Linked DNA regions of Homo sapiens: region 1 is linked to region 2. Evidence: fine-mapped expression QTL. A gene starts in region 2. The other region holds a variant in brackets. All regions are shown on one strand. Distances are between the middles of the regions. Region 1 overlaps MBOAT1 (membrane bound glycerophospholipid O-acyltransferase 1). Region 2 holds the start of MBOAT1 (membrane bound glycerophospholipid O-acyltransferase 1).

Region 1 (2,500 bases), 53 kb before region 2:
TGAAAGATAACAAGTGCTTGGAGAGCTTGTGGAGAAAAGGGAACGCCAGCACACTGTCAGGAGAAATGTAAATCAGTACAGCCATTATGGAAAACGGTATGGAAGTTCCTCAAAAAACTACAACTAGAATTTGCCACATGATCCAGCAATCACACTTTTGGGTATATGCCCGAGGAAACTGAAATCAGTATGTTGAAGAAACATCTGCACTCCCATGCTCACTGCAATTCTAATTCAGGGGTCCCCAACCCCCAGGCCATGGGCCAGTACTGGTCCATGGCCTGTTAGGAACCAGGCCACACAGCAGAAGGTGAGTGGCAGGTGACCGAGAGAAGCTTCATCTGTATTTATACCACTCCCCATCGCCTGCATTACCGTCTGAACTCCATCTCCTGTCAGATCAGCAGCAGCATTAGATTCTCATAGGAGTGTACACCCTATGAGAACTATAGCCAAGATATGGAAGCAACCTAAGTGCCATCAAGGGATGAATGGATTTTTAAAATGTAGTATAGATGCACAATGGAATACTACTCAGCCTTTAAAAAGCAGGAAGTTCTGTCATTTGCGACAACATGATACACCTAGAAGACATTGTGTTAAATGACATAAGCCAGGCACAGAGAGACAAATACCGTATGATCTTAAGTGCATGTGGAATCTAAAAAAGTCGAAAAAGCAGAGAGTTTAACAGTGTTTACCAGAGGCTGGGGGTGGAAGGAAGTAGAGGAAGAAAGGGGAGACATTGATCAATGGGTACAAAGTTACTGTTTGAGGTGATAGGTTATGTTAATTAGCCTGATTTGATCCTTCCACAATATACATATGTATCAAAACATCACATTGTACCCTATAAACATATACATTATTTGTCAATTAAAAATAAAATAAAACTTACAAAACATATGTATCATGATGTTCCTTAATAAACCCTTCACATTTAAAAGGAATATATACAAAGTTTACTTTTCTACTGATCCACTCCCTCCAGAGCAGCAAATAAAGTGGCATTTTCATTCATGACATCCAGCAATGTGCTCTCAACAATTAAAGTATTGTGTGGGCCTTTATGCATGAGGGGACAGTAGAGCACAGCTATTTTGATCAGATTCCTATAAACAAGCAAGACTGACATAGCTCAGATTCAGCAAAAGCTCAATTTCCACAGCTCTTGCAAGATTTCAAAGTCGCCGCAAAGAAATAAAACACATGCCCAAGTGTTTGACTTCTTATTTCATCAAACCACAATCAAACTGTGCTACAATTTTCAAACGCAAGTCTTAAATCTACCCTAATGTGCTGCTAGAAAGACATTATTTGGGGATTTCTGTTCCATGGCCTTCATACTCTTCCAACAAAACAGCACACTTTGCCAGGAATTAAAAACACTGCCTTTCTCCTAACCAAGAGATGCAAACAGGCTATTTTTAACAAATAGCAAATATTAACGGTCCAAAAGTATTTCCCCTACTGCAGTGGTTTACCAGTGGCTCACCAATGAGCAACAGGCAACTGTCCAGGCCTGGAATGTC[G/A]AGTGTAACAAACTAAAAAGCTTCTGTACAACAAAGGAAAAAATTAACAGAGTGAAGAGACAACCCACAGATTGGGAGAAAATATTTGCAAATCATAAGGGGCTCATATTCAAAATATGCAAAGAACTCCAACTGCTTAATAACAAGAAAATAAACATTCGGCAACACTGCCTTACACGCTCCAAGGCAAAACCAATCAAGTTAAACAATTCCTTATTTAATGGCAGCCATTCTTCCAGCACAAACAGTACTCTTTTGCATTGCCCCCTACAAATAAATGTAGCTGGGAAAGAGTACTAAAAACGCTATTCCTTCCTGTACCACAGAACAAAAAGTGACTGTAGAATACCCTTGATTTACTTTACACTTTCAAAGGGATCCTTTGTTACACTTTCATTCCACACTCCTCAGAATGTCAGCAGGAAGTATTTTTAAATCTCTAAAGAGCCTTCTTTTTCCCAGTTTGTGGATAAGCAAATATTACTTAAGATTGATAATCAATGTACACAATTTATTGCCCAAAAGACCTCTAATTCAGGGGTTCCCAACCCCCCGGGCCACAGACCAGTACTGGTCCATGGCCTGTTAGGAACCAGGCCACACAGCAGAAGGTGAGTGGCAGGTGACTGAGAGAAGCTTCATCTGTATTTACAGTCACTCCTCATCGCTTGCATTACCACATGAACTCCACCTCCTGTCAGATCAGCAGCAGCATTAGATTCTCATAGGAGTGCAAACCCTATGGTGAACCATGCATGCCAGGGATGTAGGCTGCCGCTCCTTATAAGAATCGAATGCCTTACGATCTGTCACTGTCTCCCGTCACTCCCAGATGGGACCATCTAGTTGCAGGAAAACAAGCTCAGGGCTCCCTCTAACTCTACATTATGGTGAGTTGTATAATTATTTCATTATATATTACACTGTAATAAGAATAGAAATAAAGTGCACAATAAATGTAATGAGCT
Region 2 (3,028 bases):
TGGGTCCTCCCCCAGCATGCCCTGCCCAATTCTATTTAAATCAACATTTACTGATTGGGTCACTACTAAGTATCCCGCAGATCTAGCCTGCAGCACCTGAAGAGACAAGGAAATGAGTAAGACGGGCTTCATCTTCAGGAAGGTTTCTTGCCAGGAATCACTGTTGTTGCCATTTTTAATTTTAATGGTTGTAGATAATTCCTGGACAGTTCAAATAACTTCACTGGGGCCCCTCTCCTCCCCCTAACCTGTCCTACTCAGAAGCTCCAGCCCCAGGCATATGAGCCAACCGAACCCTGGGAAAACCAAAGTGTCCTTGTGTGTCCCGCATCACACACGGTACAAAATAACTGTCACCCCTGAACAAGCCTCGCCTCAGAAGTCTAAAACCCAGGTCCTGCATTCAAAATCTATAGACTACCGTCTACAGATTCATCGCGCTTGTTTTTTAAGTAGGGTCATCTAAATTAAAAACAATAACGACTTGAGGACACTGATGAAAGAAACACTGGTTTCATGTATCAGACTACTTCAGAACTTGATTACAGGAAACGAGGCAATCCCAAACTTAAAGAAAAAAAAGTTCAGTAGAACTTGCCGCGCAGGCTGTACCAATATTTTTTCACACTTACAAGGAGAAAAACACTAACACCAACTCAAGAAGGGAAAACACACACACACACACACACACACACACACACACAAAAACCAACTGTCTAGTGTGTGGCTGTAAAATACGCCATGGAGGCGGAGGGACGGTGGCTAACACTTTCGCCCGCCCCGTGCACGCGATCGCTGGGGAGCTGGGGTCGCTGCGCTCCCGGCCTGCAGTTACCTGGTCCAGCGGGATGCCCAGGAGCTCGCTGAGCGGGTGCAGGTAGGTGGAGCCCGTGGTGCGGTAGGAAAGGCTGGACGGCTGCGGCTCTGCTGCCATCCTGCATCTTCGGGAGGTGGCTGCCCCTGTCCCAGCCCGCAACACCCCCTGCTCGGCGTCCTCCCGCCCGGGTGCTCTTGGGTGGTTGCCCCGAGAGGCGCACGGCCGCCTGGTTCGCGGGGGAGCGAACGGGAGGCCGGGGAATGCGAACCGGCGCAAACTCTCGAGGCGCAAACTCTCGAGGCGCAAACTTGGCTTTGGCGCTGGCGCTGCAGCCACGGGCGCCGTAGGAGGGCCGGGCCCAAGGCGCCCCGCTTCCCGCTCCCTTCCTCTCCGCGCCCATTGGCCCGGCCGCTCGGGACGGCCCCGAGAGGAGGGAAGGAGGGAGGAAAAGTGGGGACTCCGAGCCCGGCCCCCAAGCGCCGCCCGGCCCGCCCAGCCTGGCCTGCACCGAGGCCGACCGGGAGAGGGAAAGCGACGCCAGCGGGCGCCGCCGCCTGGCCCTGCAGCTGGAGGCGGGACGCGCCTTTCCTCCTCCCGGGCTGACCGTCCTAGCCCCCCGCCAGACAAAACGACCTCACCCAGCGGGCGCCTTCCACTAGAGAGCACCACCCACCCCGCCCCACCCTGTTTTGGTTTCGCCGCCGCAGTCGAAGCGGCTGAGTGGCTGCGTTTCCCTTTCAAGCCGTAGAGGGTTCCTCTGCCGGTGGCTGGAAGCTGGAGCGCCGCAGCCACCAGACTCCCTACTTCCTTTACCCTCCTCTGCGCTAGGCATAGTTTCCTACACCCTGATCTGACATGTTCGGTGTCACACAAGCAAATACAGGGGACTGCTAGCTTCGGGTCACTTCCGTCTCTGTGGAGTGAGAGTTATTTCACCTCTGTAAGAAACGGTGTTTACTGTCATACTATGTGCATTCTGATAAGTCATTTGCATGCCACGGGTCCTCAAAAAGGGTGCCTTGCTCCTTAACTTGTCTGCCCCCGAACACCCACACATCAATGTTACTTGGAAAACTTTTCCAAGTTATTGCTAGGTTCTGAGAAACATAAAAATCTTGAAGATCCTTTTCAGGAATCGCTAGCTGATGAAAAAGGGTTTCAGGAAGGTAATATTCTGGGCTGCTGGGTAGAAAACCAAAGAAAGTGAGCTCACGTGGCCCCCAGCCTCCGCTGGGTAAACCGGCATTCGATCAGACAGGCAATGACTTTCGGGGCCGACTTTATCAATGTGGCCTCCAGCTTCAAATTAAACCGAAGGCCTGTCAGGCACTGGCAACAACTTACTCTCCAAGACTCAGGCCTCACTCTTGCCTTCTTCAGGAGTTTTATCACCATCAAACTGCACTGAGCATTAAATTGCCAGGCCAGAGTTTCTCAACCTATGTCCCCTGTGGAGGAGGAAAAAAAAAAGTCTGTACCACCACTCCCACAAGCTAACCGAATGGAGATGTCACCACCAGATGATAATCTCTACCACTCACAAGCAAACCCACACTACAGACAGACAGACACATGCACACACGCACACAGGCATATACTTGAGGATCACTAGGCTAGATAGGTTCATTTAATATCATAGAGTCCTGGAAAATGACCAGCATTGGAGCAACATTCATCTTATCTGGAGCTAGATGACAGCTGAAGTGAGGTATATGAGAGCAGACGGAGCTTTGTTTAAAAGGAAAAAAAAATCAACACTCAGATATGAGTTGCTGGAAAACAGAAGTAGGTCAGTTTGGGAAGTATTTCTGGAGCAAGTGCCTCAGACCCTTTATAATTTTCACAAAGCTATGCCTTTTAGACTTCAAAGAATAGTCCTCACATAGGCCATATATATATATGTGTGTGTGTGTGCGTGTGTATATATATTTATTATAAATATATTAATTTATATAATCATATATAAATATATTTATATATGTAAAGTTTTATATGTACATATATTAGCCTTACACAGGTTTATATATACATATATTACACAGTTTTTATATATATATATAACACAGGTTTGATATATACATATGTATATATGTATATGTAAAATATATACATGTATTAGCCTTACACAGGTTTTTTTCTCCCTAACAAAACACAGTTCATAACCTAGTCTAAATTTTTCTTTTAAAAATGGCCGGGTGCGGTGGCTTATGC

What was found. PIP is the estimated chance that this variant, and not a neighbour inherited with it, causes the effect. A credible set is the group of variants that fine-mapping cannot tell apart.
Region 1: its variant is the best candidate, but not a certain one, in a credible set for the expression of MBOAT1 in liver (GTEx, PIP 0.56).

The regions. Positions count from the first base shown.
Region 1 is chr6:20,158,908-20,161,407 of GRCh38, forward strand. All of the region lies in intron 1 of MBOAT1 (membrane bound glycerophospholipid O-acyltransferase 1), which reads right to left. Among named protein-coding and RNA genes, the nearest start is that of MBOAT1, 52 kb to the right of the region's middle. The variant G/A (reference allele first, on the strand shown) is at 1,533.
Region 2 is chr6:20,211,301-20,214,328 of GRCh38, forward strand. MBOAT1 (membrane bound glycerophospholipid O-acyltransferase 1) reads right to left here and starts at 1,169. Exons shown (of 13, transcript NM_001080480.3): 1 at 836-1,169. The coding sequence starts at 934. RefSeq lists a silencer at 975-1,514 and an enhancer at 1,697-2,197.